Regions from separate parts of the Homo sapiens genome. Here region 2 is linked to region 1. Evidence: fine-mapped expression QTL. A gene starts in region 1. The other region holds a variant in brackets. All regions are shown on one strand. Distances are between the middles of the regions.

Region 1 (4,199 bases):
TAGCAGCCCTATTGGTAATAGCCAAAAACTAGAAATACTATACATACAGCATGAGAATAACAAACTGCTACATAACTTGAATAAATCTCACAAATAAAATATTGAGCAAAAATCAGAAACTAAGGACTAAATACCATATTACTCCATTTATATAAAGTAAATAATAGGTGAAATTCATTGATAATGTTGGAAGTCCAGATAATGATTACCTTTGGAACCATGAAGTGGGGCTTCCGGGATGCAATAATGCTCTTTCCTGATCTAGATACTGGATACATGGGTATTTACACTTTGTGAAAATTCACCGAGCTGTACACTTACGATTCATGCACTTTTCTGTATGTCTTTATACTTTAAATATTAACGCAATAAAAATATCTCTATAAACTCTACTCCTTTGAAGGAAAATTGTATACATCTCCCATTCATTTTGCTGATTGCCATCATTACCTCCCATCAATGACATGTCTTGATTCCTATTCCTCACATTAAAAATTAAACTGTTTTAATTAATTTTATTGGCATACGATTGCATAGAATGATTATGTAATTGTCATTTTAGATGAACTCCATACCAGATCACAAGGAAAAACTTTGAAACGCCAATAATTTGTGATAGTATATTCAAGTTATCTGGGGAAGAAAAGAACACCTCCTTGAAATGTAGTTTTGTTTGGCCCTTTGTTTTGGCTTATTTCTATCTACTACCACTGTGATTTAACCTGCATAAAATGCTCAAAGGAGCTTTTCCAAACGCGTGTGTTTGTGGAAAGTTGTTCCTTTCTACCATCCTTGTCTAATAATGCGGCTGTCTTGTTCCCTCCATCCATAGAGCTTAAAATGCTTCCCAAACGTTGCACCAGGTCCAGGGACATTGTGAATCAAAAAAGAAAAAAAAAAATTCTAACAGTATCTTTTTACAGCATGGCTTAGCGCGCTTAAAGAAGCCCCTCATTCTTCGCCCACACTTCCACGTGTGAGAAATGAAATATAAAACGACTCTCTCATGGGCACAGAGTCGATCAGAGGTTGAGCGAGGACTGGAACCTTCTGACTAACCGCGACTTAAGGGGAAAAAAACAAAAAAAATACACCCTTGAATAAATGCTCAGCTGCTCAGGTCCAGTATTAGGAAACTGGAGACAATACCAAAACCATACCCAGAAAGAGCTGTCTGCCACCTGAGGACCCCACGACACTGACCTTCGAGAGAGCCCCATCACTCCCGGCCACGCGGGGTCAGCATTCACTAAGTACAGATTCCGCGGGGCCCCTTCTCCTTCTCCAAGGAAAAGTCTGCGGCCGAAAACTCCAGGGCTGATCTGTGCCCACCACTATCATTCTCCGTCGCCCAAACCTCCCTGCCCAACCGTTTACCTGAGATGCGCCTGGCATAGACCGGGGAGTCGACACTGCGCGCTTGCCGAGTTTCTCAGGCCGAGTGCGCAGCCACCGCGTCAGCCAATCGCCACTGGCTCAGAGCCTCCTGGCTCGAGACTCACCCACAGACGATCCGGCGGAGGAGCGGGGCGGCGCGTGGGGCCTACGGGGCGGCGGCGCGCCGCAGGGGAGAGCGCAAGCGGCGAGCACCGGGCATGCGCGTGCCGCGCTGCCGGGCCGCGAGGCGGGGCCTCCAGGAGAAAGAGAGAGCTTGGGAAGAAGGCCCGGGAGGAGTTTGGAGAGAAAGTAGTCGAACTTAGTCTGCTGCGGTGGTTGCCCTAACGGGATGCTTATGGTTGTCGAATCCAAGACGACGAGCGCAGAACGCTCTTTCTCTTCTGAAAGAGCAAAACGTTGTCTGGACAAAACCTAATAGGATTAGAAGAGGGAGAACGCGGAACTAAAAACGGTGTCTTGTGGCCTCATACTTGGCCTCGTCGAGTTTTCCCAAGACCTGTCGAAATTGTGCTTTCCTTCTTTGTGTGTGGTTTGGGATGAGAGGTGGGAGGGACGTGTTTCGAAGCGGCGGTCAAGTGAAAATGGCACCAGATCGGGCTCCGGTTGAGTGAGCAAAAGTACTATCTAGATCCTGGCCAAAGAACGTTTCACACTAAAACCTTGGAGCTGGTGACTTTTTTTTTTTTTTTTTTTTTTGACTGAAGTGCTGGATGAGATTACGATATGTGAATCCTCTAAGAAAAAATGTTAAACCTTACAGAATTTAAAAATGTCCAAAGTTTTCAATTGGCCTACCTCCGTGAACTAAGAATGGTATAATTAACTGCTAGTAATTTAAATTTGGGTTTTTTGTTCCATAGTTCAGAATTGGTTTTATAAATGTCACTTTAACTCCTGTTACTCATGATTCCTTCAGACACCAAATACTTAGTGACCACATACCATGTGCCAGGTACTCTTCTGGGTGCTGAGTAATAAGCAATAATATTTTTTAATACACCCCAGAGAATAGGCATAATATGAGGTGCTGACGGGTTCCTAAATTTGTGGTTAAAGTTAATGAAAGGAACTTATCCTTTAGTAAGTGTACAAAAGAGAGTTTAAAAAACTGAAAAAGGCCGGGCGCGGTGGCTTACGCCTGTAGTCCCAACACTTTGGAAGGCTGAGGCAGTGGGATCGCTTGAGCCCAGGAGTTCGAGACCAGCCTGGACAACATGGCGAGACCTTGACTTTATTAAAAATCAAAAAAATTAGCTGGGCATGATGGTGCATACCCGTAGTCCCAGCTACTAGGGAGGATGAGGTGGGAGAATCGCTTGAGCCCCAGAGGTGGAGACTGAAATAAGCTACGATGGCTGGCGCCACTGCACCCCAGCCTGGGGGACAGAGCATGACGCTGTGAAAACTAACAAAATGGAAAAGTTGGACGTAGATTAACTTGGAACAACAGAGGTTATAATATTCACCAAATTTTCGTTATGTATGCTGTAATGAACAGTGTTCTCAAGAAGTTTGTTACAGATTCAGCTTTGAAATGCTTTTTTCTTTTTTGCTTTACTTCAGTCAGGATTTGAATCATATTTATGAACATAAAGTACCATAAAAATCTATGAGACAAAAACAAAGAGTGTACAGTTTATCAGAGCAAATACTCCAATCAGGAAGTATATAGCTTGTGCAAAGGCTTAGGGCCAAATCAAATTATGTGTAAAACAAAGGAAAAAGTTGATTTTCCTGGCTAGGAAATAATAAATAAAACAGGATAGTGACTACCACAATGAGAACATTCAAACCATGTAATGAATTAGTAGAATAAATTTAGAGAAAAATTATAATATTTTTCATTGAGTAAAGTTCATTTCCTCCTTTTTTTAAAGCCCATTATCTGGGTGCTTACAGTCTCTGGCATAAAGAGAAACCTCATATTTTCTTTCCTTTTAGTAAGCTGATTTTCTCTCTCTCTCTCTCTGTTTTATGCAGTGAGTTCAAACATTAGGACTAATTCTCCCTATTCTTTTTCCTTTTTCCCTAACATACCTGAAGTAACTCATTAATGTTCTTTCCCTAAACTTTTGATACCACAACAGGTAAGTTTTCCCCTACTCCCCTCCACCACCACCATAACCAACATATCCATTTCTTCATTTTCTATTGTTCTAACAGTTGCCTGTCTATAAGAAATGAAAGAGATAAATTAGAGCTTTTTTCTTTTCTCAAAATGATTATCAAAGATATTGTCTATGTCCTCATACCTCATACAAGCTGGACTTTTACAGAAATATGGATGAAGATGAGAAGAAGAAAATGAACCACTCTTTCGTTACAGGGAGAAAAAGAATGTCATATTATTAATATTATCAAGTCTGTTAATGTCAGATCATTAATATTCTCAAGTCTATAAATATTAGGCTTCTGCAGTGTGTCACACACTGATCAGTTCTGCAAATAAAATAATGAATAACAATTAGGCACACAAGTAGCTGAGAATACCATATGTATTAATCAGGGTTCTCCAGAGAAACAGAACAAACAGGATATGTGTGTATACACAGAGACTACATAGAGAGAGGGACAGTGATTTATTGTAAGGAAATGGCTCATGCAGTTGTGGACTTTTAGTGAGTCCAAAATCTGAGGGAAGAGGCGGGCAAGCCTCAGAAAAGAATTGTAGTTGGACATACATGGAATGTAATCTGTTGTATTCAAAGTCTGGTGATTTAAATGGTAATCTCATCAAAAAAACACCTTCACAGAAGCATCCAGGATAACGTTTCACCAAATATCTGTGCACCATGGCCCAG
Region 2 (4,199 bases), 160 kb before region 1:
TCTGTGGGCAGGGCATAGTTGAACAAATGGCAGCGGACAACTTCTACAGACTTAAATGTCCCTGTCTGATAGCTCTGAAGAGAGCAGTGGTTCTCCCAGCACGGCATTTGAGCTTTGAGAATGGACAGACTGCCTCCTCAAGTAGGTCCCTGACAATCATGTAGCCTAACTGGAAGACACCTCCCACTGGGGCCGACAGACACCTCATACAGGTGGATGCCCCTCTGGGATGAAGCTTCCAGAAAAAGGAACAGACAGCAATATTTGCTGTTCTGCAATATTTACTGTTCTGCAGCCTCCACTGGTGATACGCAGGCAAACAGGGTCTGGAGTGGACCTCCAGCAAACTCCAATGGACCTGCAGCTGAGGGACCTGACTGTTAGAAGAAAAACTAAGAAACAGAAAGGAATAGTTTCAACATCCACAAAAAGGACACCTACACCAAAACCCCAACTGTAGGTCAAAAACATCAGAGACCAAAGGTAGATAAATACATAAAGATGGGGAGAAACCAGAGCAGAAAAGCTGAAAATTCTAAAAACCAGAGTGCCTCTTCTTCTCCAAAGGATCGCAGCTCCTCACCAGCAATGAAACAAAGCTAGATGCAGAATGACTTTGACAAACTGACAGAAGTAGGCTTCAGAAGGTCAGTAGTAACAAACTTCTCCAAGCTAAAGAAGCATGTTCTAACCCATGGCAAGGAATCTAAAAATCTTGAAAAAAGGTTGGACGAACAACTAACTAGAATAAACAGTGTAGAGAAGACCTTAAATGACCTGACAGAGCTGAAAACCATGGCACAAGAATGTCGTGACACATGCACAAGCTTCAATAGCCGATTCAATCAAGTGGAAGAAAGGGTATCAGTGATAGAAGATCAAATTAATGAAATATAGCGAGGGGAGAAGTTTAGAGAAAAAAGAGTAAAAAGAAACAAACAAAGCCTCCAAGAAATATGGGACCATGTGAAAAGACCAAATCTACATTTGATTGGTGTACCGGAAAGTGACGGGGAGAATGAAACCAAGTTGGAAAACACTCTTCAGGATATTATCCAGGAGAACTTCCCCAACCTAGCAAGGCAGACCAACATTCAAATTCAGGAAATACAGAGAGCACCACAAAGATACTGCTTGAGAAGAGCAACCCCAAGACACGTAATTGTCAGATTCACCAAGGTTGAAATAAAGGAAAAAATGTTAAGTGCAGCCAGAGAGAAAGGTCAGGTTACCCACAAAGGGAAGCCCATCAGACTAACAGTGCATCTATCGGCAGAAACCCTACAAGCCAGAAGAGAGTGGGGGTCAATATTCAACATTCTTAAAGAAAAGAATTTTCAACCCAGAATTTCATATCCAGCCAAACTAAGCTTCATAAGTGAAGGAGAAATAATCCTTTACAGACAACCAAATGCTGAGAGATTTTGCCACCACCAGGCCTGCCTTACAAGAGCTCCTGAAGGAAGCACTAAATATAGAAAGGAACAACCAGTACTAGCCACTGCAAAAACATGCCAAATTGTAAAGACCATTGATGCTATGAAGAAACTGCATCAATTAACGGGCAAATTAACCAGCTAACATCATAATGACAGGATCATATTCACACATAACAATATTAACCTTAAATGTAAATGAGCTAAATGCCCCAATTAAAGGACACAGACTGGCAAATTGGATAGAGTCAAGACCCATCAGTGTGCTGTGTTCAGGAGACCCATCTCACATGCAGAGACACACATAGCTCAAAACAAAGGGAAGGAGGAAGATCTACCAAGCAAATGGAAAGCAAAAAAAGCAGGCATTGCAATCCTAGTCTCTGATAAAACAGACTTTAAACCAACAAAAGTCAAAAGAGACAAACAGCACTTTGAAAGGCCAAGGCGGGCAGATCACAAGGTCAGGAGATTGAGACCATCCTGGCTAACATGGTGCAACCCGGACTCTACGAAAAATACAAAAAATTAGCTGGGCATGGGGGTGGGTGCCTGTAGTCCCAGCTACTCGAGAGGCTGAGGCAGGAGAATGGCATGAACCCGGGGAAGGCG[G/A]AGCTTGCATTGGGCCGAAATCGAGCCACTGCCCTTCAGACTGCGAGAGAGGCAAAAAAAAAAAAAAAAAAAAAAAAAAAGAGAGAGAGGGAGAAACAAAAAAGGCCATCACATAATGGTAAAGGGAACAATTCAACAAGGAGAGCTAACTATCCTAAATATATATGCACCCAATACAGGAACACCCAGATTCATAAAGCAAGTCTTTAGAGACCTACAAAGAGACGTAGACTCCCACACAGTAGTAATGGGAGACCTTAACACCCCACTGTCAATATTAGACTGATCAATGAGAGAGAAGGTTAACCAAGAGAGAGAAGGATATCCAGGACTTGAATGCAGCTCTGCACCAAGGGGACCTAATAGACATCTACAGAACTCTTCACCCCAAATCAACAGAATACATATTCTTCTCAGTACCACATTGCACTTATTCTAAAATTGACGACATAATTGGAAGTAAAGAATTCCTTAGCATATGTAAAAGAACAGAAATCACAACAAACTGTCTCTCAGACCACAGTGCAATCAACTTAGAACTCAGGATTAAGAAACTCACTCAAAACTGCACAACTACATAAACGCTGAACAACTGCTCCTAAATGACTACTAGGTAAATAATGAAATGAAGGCAGAAACAAAGATGTTCTTTGAAACCAGTGAGAACAAAGATACAACGTAACAGAATCTCTGGGACACATTTAATGCAGTGTGTAGGCGGAAATTTATAGCACTAAATGCCCACAAGAGAAAGCAGAAAAGATCTAAAATTGACATCCTACCATCACAATTAAAAGAACTAGAGAAGCAAGAGCAAACACATTCAAAAGCTAGCAGAAGGCAAGAAATAACTAAGATCAGAGCAGAACTGAAAGAAATAGGGACACAAAAAACCCTTCAAAAAAATCAATGAATCCAGGAGCTGGTTTTTTGAAAAGATCAACAAAATTGATAGACTGCTAGCAAGACCAATAAAGAACAAAAGAGGGAAGAATCAAACAGACGCAATAAAAAATGACAAAGGGGATATCACCACCGATCCCACACAAATACAAGCTACCATCAGAGAATACTATAAAAACCTCTACGCAAATAAACTAGAAAATCTAGAAGAAATGGATGAATTCCTGGACACGTACACCCTCCCAAGACTAAACCAGGAAGAACTTGAATCTCTGAATAGACCAATAACAGGCTCTGAAATTGAGGCAATAACTAATAGCCTACTGAACAAAAAAGTCCAGGACTAGATGGATCACATCCGAATTCTACCAGAGGTACGAAGAGGAGATAGTACCATTCCTTCTGAAACTATTCCAATCAATAGAGAAAGAGGGAATCCTCCCTAATTCATTTTATGAGGCAACATCACCCTGATACCAAAGCGTGGCAGAGACACAACAAAAAAAGGGAATTTTAGACCAACATCCCTGATCAATATGGATGCGAATATCCTCAATAAAATACTGGCAAACCGAATCCAGCAGCACATCAAAAAGCTTATCCGCCAAGATCAAGTCGGCTTCATCCCCGGGATGCAAGGCTGGTTCAACATATGCAAATCAATAAACATAATACATCACATAAACAGAACCAATGACAAAAACCACATGATTGTCTCATTAGATGCAGAAAAGGCCTTCGACAAAATTCAACAGCCCTTCATGCTAAAAACTCACAATGAACTAGACATTGATGGAACGTATCTCAAAATAATAAGAGCTATTTATGACAAACCCACAGCCAATATTATACTGAATGGGAAAAAACTGGAAGCATTCCCTTTGAAAACCGGCACAAGACAAGGATGCCCTCTCTCACCACTCCTATTTAACATAGTGTTGGAAGTTCTGGCCAGGGCAATCGGGCAAGAGAAAGAAATAAAAGATATTCAATTATGAAAAGTGGAAGTCAAAGTTTGCAGATTACGTGATTGTATATTTAGAAAACCCCATCGTCTCAGTCCAAAATCTCCTTAAGTTGATAAGCAAATTAGGCAAATTCTCAGGATACAAAATCAATGTGCAAAAATCAAAAGTATTCCTATACACCAATAACAGAGAGCCAAATAATGAGTGAACTCCCATTCACAATTGCTACAAAGAGAATAAAATACCTAGGAATACAACTTACAAGGGATGTGAAGGACCT

Alleles and levels. Alleles are on the strand shown, and positions count from the first base shown. SD is a standard deviation of normalised expression in the study named.
In carriers of allele G in region 2, the expression in thyroid of the gene that starts at base 1,545 in region 1 tends to be lower than with A alone (large effect, 1.1 SD a copy in GTEx).

The links. PIP is the estimated chance that this variant, and not a neighbour inherited with it, causes the effect.
Region 2: its variant is the best candidate, but not a certain one, in a credible set for the expression of MIPOL1 in thyroid (GTEx, PIP 0.67).

The regions. Positions count from the first base shown.
Region 1 is chr14:37,195,283-37,199,481 of GRCh38, reverse strand. MIPOL1 (mirror-image polydactyly 1) reads right to left here and starts at 1,545. Exons shown (of 13, transcript NM_001388067.1): 1 at 1,378-1,545.
Region 2 is chr14:37,359,540-37,363,738 of GRCh38, reverse strand. All of the region lies in intron 9 of MIPOL1 (mirror-image polydactyly 1), which reads right to left. Among named protein-coding and RNA genes, the nearest start is that of MIPOL1, 160 kb to the right of the region's middle. The variant G/A (reference allele first, on the strand shown) is at 2,049.